Homo sapiens: one gene and its partners. The protein of the gene in region 1 binds, or shares a complex with, the protein of each later gene. Each region holds a gene or a part of one and is shown in the gene's direction. Other genes may lie near its edges.

Evidence for each region.
Region 2: BRD8 (region 1) and MORF4L1 share a complex: the UniProt entries of both Homo sapiens proteins name them as parts of the nuA4 histone acetyltransferase complex.
Region 3: BRD8 (region 1) and RUVBL2 share a complex: the UniProt entries of both Homo sapiens proteins name them as parts of the nuA4-related complex.

What each region holds. Positions count from the first base shown.
Region 1 is NC_000005.10:138,175,613-138,182,447, reverse strand, and holds the start of BRD8 (bromodomain-containing protein 8), read left to right. Parts: upstream 1-3,817; 5' UTR 3,818-3,833; coding exon 3,834-3,852; intron 3,853-4,780; coding exon 4,781-4,877; coding exon of another isoform or gene 4,878-4,882; intron 4,883-6,835. Other genes in the region: kinesin-like protein KIF20A, read right to left, coding at 1-125, 720-839, 937-1,026, 2,603-2,767. UniProt on the Homo sapiens protein: May act as a coactivator during transcriptional activation by hormone-activated nuclear receptors (NR). Isoform 2 stimulates transcriptional activation by AR/DHTR, ESR1/NR3A1, RXRA/NR2B1 and THRB/ERBA2.
Region 2 is NC_000015.10:78,868,936-78,875,915, forward strand, and holds the start of MORF4L1 (mortality factor 4-like protein 1), read left to right. Parts: upstream 1-3,954; 5' UTR 3,955-4,082; coding exon 4,083-4,122; exon of another isoform or gene 4,123-4,283; intron 4,284-6,980. UniProt on the Homo sapiens protein: Component of the NuA4 histone acetyltransferase (HAT) complex which is involved in transcriptional activation of select genes principally by acetylation of nucleosomal histones H4 and H2A.
Region 3 is NC_000019.10:49,010,886-49,016,496, forward strand, and holds the end of RUVBL2 (ruvB-like 2), read left to right. Parts: intron 1-113; coding exon 114-208; intron 209-306; coding exon 307-425; intron 426-3,598; coding exon 3,599-3,718; intron 3,719-4,135; coding exon 4,136-4,265; intron 4,266-4,686; coding exon 4,687-4,801; intron 4,802-4,931; coding exon 4,932-4,957; 3' UTR 4,958-5,085; downstream 5,086-5,611. Other genes in the region: LHB (lutropin subunit beta), read right to left, coding at 5,183-5,425. UniProt on the Homo sapiens protein: Possesses single-stranded DNA-stimulated ATPase and ATP-dependent DNA helicase (5' to 3') activity; hexamerization is thought to be critical for ATP hydrolysis and adjacent subunits in the ring-like structure contribute to the ATPase activity.

The sequences.
Region 1 (6,835 bases):
GTTTTCCCTGAGTTAGTGACTCCATATGTATAGATGAGCCAGTTCTGCCCTTTGAGTACATCCTTTACCATCTCCTTCACAGTTAGGTTGAAGAAGGATGCCTGTCCCACTTCTGGCCCAAAGATCTAGAGAGAGACCCAGTTTTTTAGAGGCCTCTCCTTCATCTCCCACTTGCCTCCTGTGCAGAGCCAGCAGATATATTCCTTCCTGAGTGGTTGGCTCTGGAGACCACTCAAGCAGCTTCTTCCTGCAATGCTGCTGGCTGTTCCCTAAACACTGAGGACTCAAGCACTCTCTGCTAGTCCATCTTTCCACCAAATCAACAAACACTTAAGGAATGCTATGCCCTAGGCCTGATGCTGCACACACAATGGGGCAATATAATGGCCCACAAGTATGGGCTTTGGAGATACATGGATCTAGACTCAGGTCCTAACTCTACTAGTGACTAGCTACATGGCTTCAGCAATATTACATTCATTGAGCCACACTATCCTTGTGAGGAAAATAAGGAAATAATGATAATAACAATAGAATTTTTCAGAACTGATATACATATGTTACTTGACACATTGACTAACACATAACTAGGGCCCTCAAAATTGTAGGTGTGCATATACAAGGAACTCACAGTCAGGAAGAGAAGCTTTCCCTCTAAAGAGGGAATAAAGTTGCCCTTACATGTTGGTCTTTTGTTCACAAACCAGTACCCTCCATACCTGGGAAAAGGTGAACCTGTGTGTGGCTTGGCCAATTCCCCGTTCATTGCTCTTCAGGGCAAAAGAGTCCTTGGGTGCTTGTAGAACAAGGGTCTCCACATTCTCAATACGGACACAACCCTGAGAAGGGAGAAAATACAGTTGTCACAGAAGGCATTCCTGGGAATCTTTTGTACTGCATCATTTCACCTTGAATCCTCCCTTCTCAGACACTTACCTGATCTTCCTGTCGTTCCAACTCTGAAGGTAACAAGGGCCTAACCCTCAAGTATACTTTCACCTTCTCCATACTGTCCTCAGATGGAACCTGTGGCAGAATCCCAGCCCAGAACCACAGATTAATTTCAGCAGTTACCTCTGAGCAAATGGGCAAACAGTAGTTTCTAGGAACTATGATAACACTACCCCATTTCACCTCAAATGTCTCTGTGCAGCTACTCTTTGGTTCCACAATCATTCCAACCCACATGGACATTTTTACTACTTTGTCACCCTTCCCTGTCTCGTCATTATCCTGCAAATGTGGCTTGCCACACCGATGATCTGAGTTCGAATTTATTGACTGGTATGAAAATTAGTATGTGATATTAAAGCAAAGCAGAGGCAAACACTTGAATTTGAGTCCCAATTCCATGACTTAGTAACTATGAGACCTTGAATTATGAGTTCTTGAAATTCTTGGCCTCAGTTTCCTCATCTGCAGAATGGGGTTAATAATAGCACCTATGTCATTCATTCAACAGATACTTAGAGGCTGGGTGCAGGGGCTCACGCCTATAATCCCGGCACTTTGGGAGGCCAAAGAGGGTGGATCACCTGAGGTCAGGAGTTCCAGACCAGTCTGGCCAACACAGCAAAACCCCATCTCTACTAAAAATACAAAAATTAGCTGGGCTTGGTGGTAGGTGCCTGTAATTCCAGCTACTCAGGAGGCTGAGGCAGGGAGAACTGCTTGAACCCGGGAGGCGGAGGTTGCAGTGAGCAGAGATTGTGCCACTGCACACCAGCCTGGGGGACAGAGCGAGACTCCATCTCGAAAACAAAAAAACCCAAAAAACAAAAAAAACCCAGATATTTAGAGTGTCTACTATGGCCTAGGAACCGAGAAGCTCTGATAGTCCATAGTGAGAGACATCATCAAGGACCATGCTCTCATGGAACTTTATAAGTCTCTAAGAGAAACTCTATAAGAGCACAAAATCTGACAATGTATGTTAATGTTTAGCATAGGACCTAGTACAGTGTTTCTCAACCAGGGTCATTTCCACTCCAAGGGCCATTTAGCAATGCCTGAAGTGCCTGAAGACATTTTTTGATTGTCACAAATGGGAAGGCACTACTGACATCTAGTGGGTAAATGCCAAGAATGCTATTAAACATCTTGAAATGTACAGGACAGATCCCTACAAGAACTGTCTAGCCCCAAATGTCAATAATGCTGTAACTGAGAAACCCTGGCCTAGCAGGAAACCTACAACAAATTGAAGCTATGGTGATACTATTAAAACCTGAACATACATTCCACTTACATAATGCCTATATGACCTTGTGCAAATTATTTAGCACAACTGGGCCTCAAGGCAAAGAGAGATAACTATTATTCCCTGAAAGATTAACTAAGAGCATGCATTTGAGGCTATTTCATTAATGCAATGCAAATTATAGTTCTTCTGGACACACAACTCAATTTTTTTTTTACTTGTCATGCCCTTAATTTTTTTTTCTTTTTTTCTTTTCATAGCCATTTTGTCCTAAATGCCCTTAATTTTGAATTGATCTCAGACCTTTAGGATTGCTAGTCTTTGACCTCATACTACCCTGTATGGACAATTATTGGCCTGAGGATATCACTTTCCGCCCCAGCCACTCCCCAGTTCCTTTACCTGCTGCTTGTCCTCTAGGGAGGTAGAGACGACAGAGCAGTCTGATAGCAGGTTCTTGCGTACCACAGACCCCAAATCTGCAGCTGTGGACTCAAACATGGGAGAAACTACGACATCGTCATCGGACAGCAAGCCCGCTGGCGGAGAAAGGATCCCTTGCGACATGACGGCAGGGGCAGCCTAGGTCTAAAAAGAGACCAAAAAGTGGGCAGGGAGAAGAACCTTTAGGGACAGAAGGGGCCGCGAATTTTAGGTAATAAGTCCCTTGCCCCAGGACACCGTGTCCCGCTTCCTACTTCTTTTCCCCTCCAATTATCGGCAAAGGGGAAGGGAATGAGAGAAGTTCACTTAATGAACAATTGAGAGAAGTTTGAGGCGGCATTTCTGAACGCGAACAGAAGTCCACAGACATCTGGCTCCAAAAGCAGAAGGCTACGCCTAAAGTAGGGCACCTCGCCCGCCGGTGCTGTGGAGGTGGTGTCAGGATCCCTCGGCTCCTTCTCTAACCTCACCCCAAGGACCACCGTGAGAACAGAGATGCAGCATTAAGAGAAAAACAGATGGCTGCAGCTCCGATTTCTTAAAGCCTATTCCGCGCGGGCAAGAGCTGGTAACCCGGGCTCCAGCACAGCCGCACACTCACCCGAAGACGTGCCACTTGCTCCTCCTGGGATACTGGCTTACTCACACCTAGTCGCCGAAGCTGGACTTTCGCAGCCGCAGAGCACAACTCCGCCCACGAGGTGCAGCTTTGTTACAGATACAATATTTTAAATTACGCGCTGCGTTCGTTCGGCCAATCAGATAGGGAAGCCTGCAGCTACCAATCCGCGTAAGGAAAGGGGGCGGGCCTGACTGGAATTCCAGTCGTTCGCTTCTGCTTGACCTCTGAGTTCTAATGTGGGTCCGGGTTACCAACTGTCGTGGATTCGCACTTATTTTGCCTGGGATTCTTCCAACTTAACCTTTTTCCTTGAACCTTAGACATTTCTTACCTAAGAGCCTAAAGGAAATCTTGAGGCTTCAGCAGCCAACTCCTGTCCTTCCTTAGCAACAATCTTAACAGGAGTGCACAGGGTAACTGGTTTAGGGTGCTTGCTTTGTCTTAAGGGGAAAAACGACATTTCCCAGGAGGCACCGCGAACCAACGCCGGTACACTATTTCCCAGAATTCCAGGGTTTCGGCCCTTCCAGACCGTCTCTCCTCAGGGTTGGAGACTTCGGGGCCAAGATGGCGACGGGAACGGGCAGTGAGTATCTGAGCAGGTTTTGCGTGAAAGGCCTTTGTAGATCCGAGGCTAGGCACCATATTTTTGTTACACGCTTAGGGAGTGGGAGAAGTGGGTTGCTTGAGAGCCCAGGGTTTTCAGAGACCTGCGCTCTACAGCATCGTGAAGACCAACGTTTGGGGGCCCAGAAATCTGGGGTCTTGTTTCTCAGGGAGAGAGCGGAGGTGTGAGAGAAGCAGCTTAGTGAATCCTAGTGTGTTAGGAACTCTGCGGGTTAACCGTAAAAGCACTCTAGAAACTTGGGCGTGCAGACGAAAAGATGTTATGAGCCAGACGGAGTAACCGGCACCTCAAAGAGCCATTCATTTTTTTGTCTGACGTTTGTGAGGCAGTGGAAGTGGGGTCTTTTAACCATGAGCTTTTCTTGCCACTCAGGAAATTGCATCTCGGGGATTTCAGCCATTTTTCTTTTTTTGGACTGAAAAGCTCTTTTACCCCCGACATTTGGAGTAGAGGATCTGAGAGAAGTAAACAAGTTTATGCTAAGAGGGAGGCGGGGTAGTAGGAGGGGCTGGCCGCTCGGGTTCCTGGGAAATAAGCCCTGAATAAGTTCAAACTGGAATAAAGTCCAGTATTCTTAAAACTGGGCTTTTAGGGAGAACTGCCTAATCTGACATTCCCTGTTTCTTAATAAAGCGGAGCTTCAAGCCATGGCGTTTTAAGAAATAAAATGTTAATAATTCACATGCAACGAATAGGTACCCCGGTCACTGGTGATATTTCACTTGGAGAGGTGAAAATCAAGATTTGGTTATAGTAGCTCACTTTGTCCTAACAAGTTGGGATGTTTTGTATTAGGCTTTTAGTCCTCTTTTTGGGGATTTTGGAGCTTAGCACTACAGTCTCAGTGGTTGTTTCCAAGGCTTTTTTTTTTTTCTCCCTTTCCCAGAACACAAGCTGCTAAGCACTGGCCCCACAGAGCCATGGTCCATCCGAGAGAAGCTATGTTTAGCATCTTCTGTCATGAGAAGTGGCGATCAAAATTGGTAAGGTATCTAGGATGTCAGCTTTTCTGGGTCTTAGAAATTGTTAGATACTCTTTCACATCGGTAGATTTCTATAGTTAATCATATTAAGCTGTAAGTAGACTTTCTTTTCTTTTTCTTCTTTTTTTGAGACTGAGTCTCCTTCTGTTGCCCAGGCTGGAGTGCAGTGGTGCGGACACGCCCAGCTAATTTTTGTATTTTTTAGTAGAGACAGAGTTTCGCCATGTTGGCCAGGCTGGTCTCGAACTCCTGACCTCAGGTGATCCCCCCACCTCGGCCTGCCAGAGTGCTGGGATTACAGGTGTGAGCCACTGCGCCTGGCCATGCCTGGCTAATTTTGTATTTTTAGTAGAGACGGGGTTTCACCATGTTGGCCACGATGGTCTCAATCTCCTGACCTCATGATCTGTCCGCCTCGGCCTCCCAAAGTGCTGGGATTACAGGCGTGAGCCACTGCCAGGCCTATTTTTTTTTTTTTTTTTTTGAGACAAGATTGCACTCTGTGGCCCAGGCTGGAGGGCAGTGGTGTGATCTTGGCTCACTGCAACCTCCATATCTCAGGCTCAAATGATCCTCCACCTCAGCCTCTTGAGTAGCTGGGACTACAGGTGCACACCACCATGCCCAGCTAATTTTTTTTATTTTTTTGTAGAGATGGGGGTTTCATCATGTTTCCTAGGCTGGTCTCGAACTCCTGCGTTCGAGCGATCCGCCCAACCTACTGGGATTACAGGTGTGAGCCACCAGGCCAGCTGTATTTCTTTTTTTAAACAGCTTTATTGAGATATAATTCACATACTATAAAATTAACCTACTTAAAATGTACAATATAATGGTTTTTAGTATATTCACAGTTGTGCAACCATCACCACAATCTAATTTTAGAACATTTTATTCTAAGAAAAACCCCTTACTCCTTAACTGTCAGTCCATGTTGTCCCCTCCTCACCACCCCCAAGCAAGCACTCATCTACTTTCTATTAATTAATTAATTAATTTGAGACAGAGTCTCACTGTCACACAGGCTGGAGTGTAGTAGTTAGATCTTGGCTCACTGCAACCTCCGCCTCCCAGGTTCAAGCGATTATCGTGCCTTAGCCTCCCAAGTAGCTGGGATTACAGCCATGCGCCACGAGTGGCCTGGCTAATTTTTGTATTTTTAGTAGAGATGAGGTTTTGTCCAGGCTGGTCTTGAAGTAATGCACCAGTCCTGGCCTCCAAAAGTGCTGGGATTACAAGTGTGAGCCACCATACCCAGCCAACTCTCTTGTCTCTGTAGATTTGCCTATTCTGGATATTTCATACAAATGGAATGATACGTGCTCTTCTGGACTTTTTTTTGTTTTTTTTAATCACTTGACATAACACTTTTTAAGGTTCATTCTTATGTAGCATGTATCAATACTTAATTCCTTTTTTAGCTGAATAATAATCTGTTGTATGAATATACCAAGTTTTATTTATCCATCACTTGATAGACAATTGGGTTGTTTCCACTTTTTGGCCATTATGAATAATGCTGATGATGTGCACATTCGTGTACAAGGTTGTGGACAATGTTTTTAATTCTCTTGAGTTTTTTATTCAAGGAGTGAAATTGCTGGGTTATGTAGTAACTTTATTATGTTTGACTTTTTTTTTTTTTTTTTTTTTTTTTTGCAGACAGGGTCTCACTGTCACCCAGGCTGGAGTGCAGTAGTGCGATCGTGGTTCACTGCAACCTCTGCCTCCTGGGCTCAAGTGATCCTCCGGCCTCAGCCTCCTGAGTAGCCGGGACTACAGGCACATGCCATCACCCCTGGCTAATTTTTGTATTTTTTGGTAGGGATGGGGTTTTGCCATGTTGCCCAGGCTGAACTTTTTTTTTTTTTTTAATTTAAATATTTATGTTTTTGTAGAGACGAGGTCCCACTATGTTCCCCAGGCTGGTCTCCAACTCTTGGCCTCAAGTGATCCTC
Region 2 (6,980 bases), on another chromosome or scaffold:
ATTAGTTGGGTGTGGTGGCATCCACCTGTAGTCCCAGCTACTGGGGAGGCTGAGGCAGGAGGATCACTTGAACCCAGGAGCTGCAAGCTGCAGTGAGCCATGATCATGCCACTGTGCTCCAGCCTGGGAGACAGAACAAGACGCTGTTTCAAAAAAAAAAAAAAAAAAAAGGTGAGATAGGCCTGTATGTAATTTGAACAATCTCCAAGATATATTATTATGTTAAAAAAGAATACAACTGGGCCGGGCGTGGTGGCTCACGCCTGTAATCCCAGCACTTTGGGAGGTTGAGGCGGGCGGATCACAAGGTCAAGAGATCGAGACCATCCTGGCCAACTTGGTGAAACCCTGTCTCTACTAAAAATACAAAACTTAGCCGGGCATGGTGGCGGGCGTCTGTAATCCCAGCTACTTAGGAGGCTGAGGCAGGAGAATCGCTGGAATCCGGGAGGCGGAGGTTGCAGTGAGCCGAGATCTCACCACTGCACTCCAGCCTGGCGAAAGAGCGAGACTCCGTCTCAAAAAAAAAAAAAAAAAAGAATGCAACTGAACAATATGTACAGACCATTTATGGTTAAAAAAAAAAAATGGAGAAAAATGCACACGCCAAATGGTGGGAAGGTAAATGGGGGGAGCGGGGAATAAACATGTTCCTTAAGTTTTGCCCTGTATTTTATATTTCTCAATTGTTGCATCATGAGCCCAAATATTTGAATATTACCTGTGTAATTAACACATAAAGGCAAATAAGTTAACTTCAATACAAAAGAAGAAATAACACAAAGAGGGTTCTAGGATAAAAAAACTCATGGATTCCCAAACAACTCATAACAGTGGGGGAACTGGGCAGATGAGGGGTGGAGGTGGGAAAGAGACTTTCACTATTTTCTTTTTTTTTTTTTTTTTGAGATGGAGCCTCACTCTGTCGCCCAGGCTGGAGTGCAGTGGCGTAATCTCGGCTTACTGCAAGCTCCGCCTCTTGGGTTCATGCCATGCTCCTGCCTCAGCCTCCTGAGTAGCTGGGACTACAGGCGCCCACCACCACGCCCAGCTAATTTTTTATATTTTTAGTAGAGATGGAGTTTCACCGTGTTAGCCAGGATGGTCTTGATCTCCTGACCTCGTGATCCGCCTGCCTTGGCTTCCCAAAGTGCTGGGATTACAGGCGTGAGCCACCGCGCCCGGCCCACTATTTTCATTTTTGTATTTTTAAACGTTTGGATTAAAAAAGTATGTGCAGGCTGGGCGCAGTGGCTCACGTCTGTAATCCCAGCACTTTGAGAGGCCGAGGCGGGTGGATCACCTGAGGTCAGGAGTTCGAGAACAGCCTGGCCAACATGGTGAAACCCCATCCCTACTAAATATACAAAAATTAGCCGGCCATAGTGGTATGCGCCTGTAAACCCAGCTACTTGGGAGGCTGAGGCAGAAGAATCGCTTCAATCTAGGAGGTGGAGGCTGCAGTGAGCTGAGACTGCACCACTGCACTCTAGCCTGGGTGACAGAGTGAGACTTGGTCTCATAACAACAACAACAACAAAAAATTGGCTGGGCGCAGTGGCTCATGCCTGTAATCCCAGCACTTTGGTAGGCCAAGGCAGGAGGATCATAAGGTCAGGAGATCGAGACCATCCTGGCCAACATGGTGAAACCCCATCTCCACTAAGATACAAAAAAGTAGCTGGGCGTGATGGCACACCGAGTCCCAGCAACTCAGGAGGCTGAGGCAGGGGAATCGCTTGAACCCAAGAGGCAGAGGTTGCAGTGAGCTGAGACTGTGCCACTGCACTCCAGCCTGGCTACGGAGCGAGACTGTCTCAAAAAAATAATTTAAAAAAAGTACGTATTTTATATTCAATAAAAAATTTAAAAGTGTACAGGACAGTTTTGGTGGGGTGGGGTCCAAAGAAGCCCTTGTCCCTTTTTACAATTTAGCAATGGTGTCCAAGGGAGTGAATACAGTCATGGGTTCTTAGTTTCTGTTTCTGGTTGGGCCAGTAAAGCCCCTTCCTCATCCCCCTTTTCCACTTATCACTAGAGACTGAAACTAAAAACCATGGCTTCAGGGTGCTAAAAGCCTAAACAAAACAAAACAAAACAACAACAAAATAAGACAGGTTGGACAAGCTTGCGAGAAGTAGTCGTGACAAGATGGTGTATATTCAACTGGAATAAGGAAGGTTTTTGTGGGTTTCTGTTGTCAGAGAAGGGGTTGTGTTAAAAAGACTGAAGGAGAAATGGAAGTCAGATAAATGGAGAGGGGCCCGGAATTGGTGGGGTGTGGAACCCGGGCAGGGGAGGGCTTAGAAAAGCCATGGAGACAGGCTGGGCGCAGTGGCTCACGCCTGTAATCCCAGCACTCTGGGAGGCCGAGGCCAGCGGGTCACCTAAGGTCGGGAGTTCAAGACCAGCCTGACTAACATGAAGAAACCCCATCTCTACAAAAACACAAAAATTAGCCCGGTGTGGTGTCACATGCCTGTAATCCCAGCTACTCGGGAGGCTGAGGCAGGAGAATCGCTTGAACCTGGGAGGCAGAGGTTGCAGTGAGCTGAGATCGCGCCTTTGCACTACAGCCTGGTTAATAAGAGGGAAACTCCGTCTCAGAAAGAAAAAAAAAAAAAAGAAAAGTCATGGAGACAAAGGTTTGCGTAGGAGGATAAAGGTTTACATAGGGGATGCAGGTAGGCTAAGGGCTGTTTGTGGAAGGATTTAAATACCAGGCTAAGGACTTTGAGATTTATCGTCTAAAGTTCATTGAGCACTTATTCATTGTTGGGTACCGCGCTAAGCCCGTATATGTAATTCTCACAATAAACTGACGGAAATGGTGCTATTTTGCAGCTTAGCCAACAAAGTTGTTTTTGAACAGGGAACGACATAAATCCGTTTGTTTAGGCCAGGCACGGTGGCTCACGCCTGTAATCCCAGAACTTTGGAAGGCCAAACCGGGCGGATCACGAGGTCAGGAGTTCCAGACCAGCCTGGCCAACATGGTGAAACCCAGTATCTACTAAAAATACAAAAATTAGCTGGGCGTGGTGGCACATGCCTGTAATCCCAGCTACTCCGGAGGCTGAGGCAGGAGAATCGATTGAACCTGGGAGGCGAAGGCTGCAGTAAGCAGAGATCGCGCCACTGCACTCCAGTCTGGGCAACGGAGCGACACTCCATCTCAGAAAAAAAAAAAAAGGTATAATATTGAAGAAATCCGTTTGTTTAGAGTGACAAGAAGCACAAACAGGGCAGGTACGGAATACAGACGTTGACATATTCACACTAGCCTTTTTCAGAAAGCAGAGCTCCATTATCTCAAAAAGCTAAAGCGTGACTAGTGTTTCCCACGTCATCATCCTCATTTCCGCAAGGCTGGGCTGGAGAAGAGGAGGTAGACCTAGGAGCCAACAAATGGCTATCAATCCCACCAAATAGGCTCCGCAGTGGGGTTGCTAAACAACGAAGCTTCCAGAAGCGGACCCCAGTTCCCACCCTCTTGCTGATCCTAAAGCCTTTCTATGCAAAAACTAGCGGAATGCTATTGAATGTAGGTTTCCGAGCCAGCCCTATTCTCTCCGACTACTTCAACATCAACGGGGGCTTATTTGCCCAAGGGACGTCGCAACTGGGCCTTTCCCATTCTATTATCACTGGTGGCTCACCACCCCCACTCTCCCCCATCGCCAGCTCCGCCTTAACCTCCCACGAAATCAAATCCCCGCTTTACCAACCCGCAGCAGCCGGGGGCATGGAGAGAGAAGCGGGGGTGGGGTGGGGTAGGGTAGCCGGCCCCTCCCCCACCCGGGGGGGGGGGGGGGGCGCCTCCACCGACTCCGAACTACCAGTCCCGGCGTGCCCTGGGGCGGCGCGGGCGCAGGGGCGCGTGCGCGGCGGGCTGTCGTTGGCTGGAGCAGCGGCTGCGCGGGTCGCGGTGCTGTGAGGTCTGCGGGCGCTGGCAAATCCGGCCCAGGATGTAGAGCTGGCAGTGCCTGACGGCGCGTCTGACGCGGAGTTGGGTGGGGTAGAGAGTAGGGGGCGGTAGTCGGGGGTGGTGGGAGAAGGAGGAGGCGGCGAATCACTTATAAATGGCGCCGAAGCAGGACCCGAAGCCTAAATTCCAGGAGGGTGAGTGTGCGCCTTTGGGAAAAAGGCACCTAACGGCGCAGGAGATAGAGGCGGGCTCGAGGTGATTGAGGCTTGAGGGCCGGGGGCGGCGCGGGCTGCGCCCTGAGAAGGCGGCGGTCAGTGCTTTGTGCGGGGAAAGCGCATTGCGGATGGCAATTCCGGTGCGTCATTGTGAGAAAGCGCTTTGTGAAGCGAGAGTGCTGCGCAGGCGTTAGAGTGGGAGAGAGAGCGTTTGGCGCGTGGCACACCCTCGTCAAGTGTTTGTTATTGTTCTGAGGAAGAGGGCGCGGAGAGAGCAGCCTATTGTAGGGAGGCGACGGGAGCGCCATGGCGGCGGTTAGGGGAAGTGATGTGGCGGCGGGGGGGGAGGGGCGGTGGCTGTTTCGGGCGGTCCTGCGGCGCGCCCGGCCGCTTGGGCAGCTACGACGGGTTTTTCGGTGCTTCCTGGAGCCCCGGGGTGGTTGCGTTCGGTGGCAACTCAGCTGCGGATGGGGGTGGGTTTGGCGCCACGGGGCGGGAGAAGTGCGTTGTAAAATGGCCGTTGCAAGATGGCGGCGCCATCATGGCCGCCGGCGTCTCGGTCCCGTATGGAGGCACAGCTTACGGGCAGATGCAGCGCCCCCTTCCACGACGACCAGAAGGTTGCCGGGGCCCTCCGCATACCACAGAGTGGTGGGTGGGGACAGAAAAAAAAAAGTGAGATGAGCGTTTTCCTCCGCTTTGTGTTGCCTGGAGGCATCACTCTGCTATTCTTGGGCGCAGTGCCGAGATCCTATGGTAATGTGAGTGAGCTCTCGCTTTGCAGTTGCTCGTAAAAAGTAAATAAAAATGATCTGAATGCAGTGTTGACGCCGTTTGCATTTGTAAGTCCCATTGCCTCGACGTCATTTTTTAAATGCAGTAATTGTTTGATTAGTTGCAGTGTTTAACAATGACTTGAAAGTTGAATTTCTTTTTATTAATTGGTTTTCGATTGACATGAGTTTTGGGTAAGGTTAGACTGACTCCCAGTGGAAGGCAGCTCTTTAAATTTTCACAACGCTTCAGTTAACGTATAATAAGGTGGAGGTCTAATAGCTAAAAAGGAAGTAAAGTCCTGTTGAGAAAGGAGGAACACTTTAACATTCCTTTTCATTGCTATGGAAATTTATGCTAGTTACCGTAAATACGATGTCTACATGCGTACGATTTTTGTTCTAGGGGTTTTTAGACTTGCATTAGAATTCCTTTTAGAGCCGTAAACCTCAAACCGTAGTACTGCGTATTTTAAGTTTATGGAATATTTAAGGAGGTTTTAGGGGTATTTTGTTAATGAGTGACTTTTTTTGTTTGTATTTTTGAGACGATGTTTGTCACCCAGGCTGTAGTGCAGTGACGCTATCTCGGCTCACCTCTGCCCCCCACCCGGGCTAAAGCGAGCCTCCCAAGTAGCTGGGATCACAGACGCGCGCCATCACGTCCGGCTAAGTTTTGTTTTGTTCTGTTTTGTTTTTTAGGGTTTTTGTTTTTTCTTTTCTTTTTCTTTCTTTTTTTTTTTTTTTTTTTGTATTTTTGGTAGAGACGGGGTTTCATGTTGCCCAGGCTGGTCTCGAACTCCTGGGCTTGAGCGATCCACCCGCCTCGGCCTCCCAAAGTTGTGGGGGGTTAACGGGCGTGAGGCATCGCTCTCGGCCGTGTGACTTTTAATACCCCTCTCTCACCTTGAGAAGCTGTTGACTCTACCTCCTATGGGTTCATTATTTTACTAGACATTTTAGAGCAGATATTCTTAATCTAGAGTCAGTGCATTAATTGAGACGGTGCGTGAAATTGAGGAAGATTTTTTTTTCTATCTCCCAAGTTTAGTATTTCAATTAACAGTGTAATTGCTCCCCCTAAACCCCGAAAAAAACCACCACATTAGCATTTTCAGTATATTTTCATATCTCAACATTACAGTTATGGAAGATGTTTTCAGTTATCGCATTCTTATTTCTTCAAAATTAGGGTAGTTATTGTATTAGCAGCCAAGTCTTGTTTGTCCTGTAATGTCATAGAACGTGACATTTAAAGTGTTTTGTTTCAGTACAGTTGGTTTCCTTTGTACTAGTGTGTGTTTTATGTATTTATGAAACTATTAGGCTCGTAGGGTTTATCAGACTGTCAAGGCACAAAAAGTTAATCGCTGCTGTGGGAACAACCTAAGGATGGCTGTTCTGGAAGAAGCGCTTTAGTTCTAGAGGGTTGCTAGTTAAGAGAGGAGTAGCAGCAGAGATTTCCTTGTGCCGTTTTAAGTGGGGTAATTGGAGAAGAGTAGGAACCAAGGTATCCCCAGGTAAGGGTTTGAAAGCTGTGTAAGAGAGTCTGTATTTAACATTACTTTCCAGGTGTGTTTTGTACTTGTGTTTAAAATGGAATTGTGTAACCACGTTTTAAAAATGATTTTAGTGGGTGGGGCACGGTGGCTCACGCCTCTAATCCCAGCACTTTGGGAGGCCGAGGTGGGTGGGGGCGGTGGATCACCTGAGGTCAGCGGTTCGAGACCAGCCTGGTCAGCCTGGTGAGCCTGGTGAAACCCAGTCTCTACTAAAAATACAAAAATTAGCAGGGCGTGGTGTTAGGCTCCTGTAATCCCGGCTACTCGGGCGGCTGAGACAGGAAATCGCTTGAACCCGGGAGTCGGAGGTTGCAGTAGGCCGAGATCCTGCCATCGCACTCCAGCCTGGGCCACAGAGTGAGACTCCATTTCAAAAAAAAAAAAAATTTATTAATTAGATGATCGGAGAATATCTTGCAAGGGAAAAAGAATATTTGATGAGTGCTAACAGAATCGTCTTGAAACACTGTAGAGTTTATGTAATGGTAGAGAAAAGAGTGGC
Region 3 (5,611 bases), on another chromosome or scaffold:
GCTTTGCTCCCCTTCCTCCATCCCTGGCATCATCCTTCTCTGTCTTAGCCACACTCTGGCCCTGGAACCCGCCTCCTCTCTGGCTTCCCTGATGCAACCTGTGCCTCCCATAGGTGACACAGGGGAGATCAAGTCAGAAGTCCGTGAGCAGATCAATGCCAAGGTGGCTGAGTGGCGCGAGGAGGGCAAGGCGGAGATCATCCCTGGAGTGAGGACCCAGGACATGGCCGGGGCGGGTGGTGGGGTGGAGGTGGGCCGGGGAAGTGGGGACGCGGGTGGTGACTCTCACACACACCCCAATCCAAGGTGCTGTTCATCGACGAGGTCCACATGCTGGACATCGAGAGCTTCTCCTTCCTCAACCGGGCCCTGGAGAGTGACATGGCGCCTGTCCTGATCATGGCCACCAACCGTGGCATCACGCGGTGAGCCGGCTACAGGGGCCTCTGGGGAAAACAGGATGCTCTGGGCAGTGGGTGTGGTCAGAGGGTCAATGGGAGCCTGTGTTGACACCGGGTCAGGGAGGGACGCGTGACTGCAGTGTGCGCTCTTTGCTTACAAAAGGCGGGTGGGAGGCAGCTCTGCTTCCCGAGGAAGCCCAGAGACTGTGTTCTTGCTGCCTTTCTGTCTTGCTGCTCCTTTAGCCCCCAAGGCTGCAGTCTTCAAACTGCGTGCCGAGGCACCCCAGGGTGCTGCAGGAAACTCACAGGAGTGCTGTGGGATGTTTTCTAGTCTTGAGGGAAGCACAGTGACATCTGTTAGACATAACATAAACTACGATTGTTCAGTCACTTCGACCCAGCAACTCCATTAACAGAACTCTTAGCGTTGTGTTTGGCCTAAGGATGCCAGGGACAGATTCCCATGACACAGAGGGTACCGTGCTCTGCTGAAGCCTGGGAACCTCATCTCCCAGGTGTTGCCAGCACCCTGTGCACGGGGAACTCTTAATGTTGTGTTTGGCCTGAGGATGCCGGGGACAGATTCCTGTGACACAGAGGGTACTGTGCTGTGCTGAAGCCTGGGAACCTCGTCTCCCAGGTGTTGCCAGCACCCTGTGTAGCTGGGATTACGGGCACCTGCCACCATGCCCGCTGGCTGTCTTCTCCACCTCGCCACATTTTGGCCCGCAGGAAGCAGGGGGATGTGGAGGGCAGGCAGCCCCCATAGGCTGTGATCCACAGGCTGCACCCCAACCTTGCACCCCCATTCCATTGCCCGGCACTGCTTGGGCTCAGTGCTGTACCTGGTGGCAAAGAAGGCTGGGTACTGTCAGCTCCAGCCCTGCAGCCTTGGGCCCAGCTGAAACTGGGCGGTTGGGATGGGCATCACAAAAGGGAAGAAGCGGGCACCCTACAGAGGATGCTGGGCCGCTGGGCCTGGCTCTGTGTTTGGCTCTTTTAACTCCTTGGATCCGCAGAAGAAGCTCAGAAGGTAGATATCACCTCAGCCCCATTTTATAGGGCAGGACAGTGAGGCCCAGTGACTTGCCCAGGTCACAAGTCTAGAAGGTAGCAGGGCCGTAATTTGGTCTCTGGATGGCTGGACACTGGAAGAGACCCCCAGGGCTGATGGTGTTTTCACAGAAACTGCAGGTCAGGGCCTGGGGACTGCCCAGGGGCACCTCCTGTGGGAGGCAGCAGCTACGGGCAGCCCTGATTGTTCGTAGACTCTGTATCTGAGAATCTCGCTTGCTAAGATTTATTTGTAATCCCCAAATAAATATCTGCCCTGCTTTCGGCAACAAATTCAAGTCACCTGACACCCACTTTCCCAGCTGAGTGTGAACGAGGCAACACTGCCTGCTCCCTTAGCGCTCATGCTGTAAATAAGTGTCCTTGTTGTATTCTATTTAGTGCTACGTTTGTCACTTTTGTTCTTTGAGACAGGGTCTTGCTCTGTCGCCCAGGCTGGAGTGCAGAGGCACGATCATGGCACACTGCAGCCTCAGTGCCCACCACACACACACACACACACACACACACACACACACACACACCACCCCTGGGACTCAATCAGTCCTCTGGCCTCAGCCTCCTCATCAGCTGGGACCACGGGCATGCACCACTATGCCTAGCTAATTTCTGTTTTTGTTTTGAGACGGAGTCTAGCTCTGTCACCAGGCTGGAGTGCAGTGGCACGATCTCGGCTCACTGCAACCTCTGCCTTCTGGGTTCAAGCAGTTTTCCTGCCTCAGCCTCCTGAGTAGCTGGGATTATGGGCACCCGCCACCATGCCCAGCTAATTTTGGTATTTTTAGTAGAGACAGGGTTTCACCATATTGGCCAGGCTGGTCTCGAACTCCTGACCTCGTGATCTGCCCACCTCAGCCTCCCAAAGTGTTGAGATTACAGGGGTGAGTCACCGCGTCCGGCCTAATTTTTTTTTTTTTTTTGTAGAGATGGTGTTTTGCCATGTTGCCCAGGCTGGTCTCAAACTCCTGGGCTCAAGCAATCCACCCGCCTCAGCCTCCCAAAGTGTTGTCACTTTTTTTGTGCCTTTTTTTTTTAAACTTTTTGGGGCCATTTGTTGGTGATATTGCCATTTAAAGTGTCCCCTGTGCACAGTGTTGAAGTGCTGTCTAGTATCCTAAGTGCAAGGAGGCTGTGAAGCCTGACGGAGAAAATGCCATGTTACAGACGCTTCGCTGAGCCCAAGTTAGAATGCTGTTGACACGAGCTCCATGTTAGAGAATAAACAGTGATGTTACATAACAAACACATGGAAATAGAAACACACATACATGAGGCCAGGCGCGGTAGCTCACACCTGTAATCCCAGCACTTTGGGAGGCCGAGGTGGGTGGATCACGAGGTCAAGAGAATGAGACCGTCCCGGCCAACATGGTGAAACCCTGTCTGTATTAAAAATAGAAAAAACTAGCTGGGCGTGATGGCGTGCGCCTGTAGACCCAGCTACTTGGGAGGCTGAGGCAGGAGGATCGGTTGAACCCGGGAGGCGGAGGTTGCAGTGAGCCGAGATCGCGCCACTGCACTCCAGCCTCGCAACAGAGCGAGACTCCGTCTCAAAAAACAAACCAAAAAGACCAGAAACACACAAATGAAAATACGCATAGACCCAGATTATATATATATGGATTGATGAAAATACTGTAAGCCGAGGCTCGAGAGAGCCTAACCCTGTATTCCAGTAGGAGCAGTGGCTCAGGATCAGCTAATTGGAGTGTTCACGATGACTTTCTAGAACCTCACTACTGTGAATAAGGGGAACTGACTGTATCCCCTGGCACCAGCCCTGGGCTGGCCCCGCTGCAGCAGGGAACAAGACAGGTGCAGTCCCCTCCTTTGTGAAGCTTTGTGTCGAGCACGGGAGTGGGACCTTGATCCAGTAATCCTGGAGGCAGAGATCTAGCTTAAAGCAGCCCAGCTCCGCGGAAAGGTGCCCTTGGGGGACTGACGCAGCTGTGGAAGGCTGCGTCATCAGGGGTGATGTCATCATGTGACAGGAGACGCGAGCTAAAGGTTAAGTGGTGTTGGGCCCAGTGAGTGGGTGGCGATGGGAGGTGAGAGTGTTCCCAGCAAAGGGAATGAAGAGGGAACATGCCCCTGACAGCCCCCTCTTTCTGCCTCTTCCTCAGAATCCGGGGCACCAGCTACCAGAGCCCTCACGGCATCCCCATAGACCTGCTGGACCGGCTGCTTATCGTCTCCACCACCCCCTACAGCGAGAAAGACACGAAGCAGATCCTCCGCATCCGGTGCGGGCAGGACCAGGCCGTGCGCCTGAGACGCAGGGCTGGGGTCTACCCTGTTTGACAAATGCTGACACTGAGGTCCAGCGGAGTGGCATGGTGGCTGGGCCTACAGGAGAGAGGGCTGAGCGGGCACCCAGACGGTGGCCTCCGATCCGGGAGCAGGAGCCACGGTGGGAAAGGGAGGCGAGGTACCCGTGACTGGTGTTGGGGCCAGCGCCCTGGGGGTGGTCAGGAGGCCTCGGTTTTAGGTCCAGCCCAGCCCCTGTCTCCGTGGCTCTTCTAGCCTCAGCATTCTATGGTTCTAAGATGCAGGCGCCACATATTCCCAGTGGGGAAGGGCCAGAGGGTTGCTGTGGCCACTTCTGCTGCAGTCAGAGGCTGGGCCCCGGCTGAGCCACCCCTGTCCCCCACTGCTTGCAGGTGCGAGGAAGAAGATGTGGAGATGAGTGAGGACGCCTACACGGTGCTGACCCGCATCGGGCTGGAGACGTCACTGCGCTACGCCATCCAGCTCATCACAGCTGCCAGCTTGGTGTGCCGGAAACGCAAGGTCAGCCGGCCGAATTAGCCAGCAGGGCCAGATGGCGGCAGTGAGTGACACAGTACTTCAGGGGCTTCCAGGGTTCCGATTTCATCCTAGAATGTACGTTTTCAGACGCAGGGAATTTTCATCCCTCAGGTTGGCTTCTGTATCATCCAGCCTGGCCTATAGTAGGTATCAGTAAATCTCTCTTGACTTAAGTAGATGCTGTTAGGTCCACCTTACAGATAAAGAAACTGAGGAATGAAGAGGCTGGGCCCACAACAAGGAGATGGCCAGGCAGGATTTGAACCCAGGCAATCTGGCCCAGAATGCCCTCCCCTCACATGCCACACTCTGCTGCCTAGAGCATGGAGGTGGCATACGCTGGGGTCTGTGCCTTGAGCCTCACGGAGAGGGGCCCAACTGAGGACTCGCCCTCCCCCTCCAGGGTACAGAAGTGCAGGTGGATGACATCAAGCGGGTCTACTCACTCTTCCTGGACGAGTCCCGCTCCACGCAGTACATGAAGGAGTACCAGGACGCCTTCCTCTTCAACGAACTCAGTAAGAATCCCCACCCCGCACCTGCACTGCCAGAGCCAACCTCAGAGGGAGGAAGAGGGAGCTCGGCGTAGAAGGCTCAGGCCCTGCCACCTGGGCGACACTGACCATGTGGCCTTCCTTCTCCCCACAGAAGGCGAGACCATGGACACCTCCTGAGTTGGATGTCATCCCCCGACCCCACCCTGTTTTCCACCAGAGTTCTGACACTGTGACTCTGTATAAAATGGTTGGGAAGCTGCACCCACCCTGTGTATGTGTGGTTGCCCTGAGCCCACAGAAAGACACCTCCAGAGTGCGGATTGAGAAGCCTTTATTGTGGGAGGATCGGGGTGTCAGGGCTCCAGGAGTCGGGATGGACTTGGAAGGCTGCGGGGAGGGTCTTTAGAGGAAGAGGAGGCCTGAGAGTTGGGGGTGGTCACAGGTCAAGGGGTGGTCTTTGGGACCCCCACAGTCAGAGGTGCTGCGGCGGCAGGGTCCACAGCGACAGCTGAGAGCCACAGGGAAGGAGACCACGGGGTCCACACCACGCGGGCAGCCAGGGAGCCGGATGGACTCGAAGCGCACATCACGGTAGGTGCACACCACCTGAGGCAGGGGCGGCAGGACCGCCTGCAGCACGCGCATCTGGAGGCCGTGTGAGTGGGGGAATGAGCATGTGCCTGAGGCCAGCGCCTCAGCTGAGCTCCCAAGCTGACCCCACAGGTCCTGGACTCAGGAGCCCAGGAAGCCCTCTGTTCCTGCCTTCCCACACCCCATTCCCCAACCGCAGGCCAGAGAGGCAGACCACCCTTCCTCCCCCGCTGCCTCTGT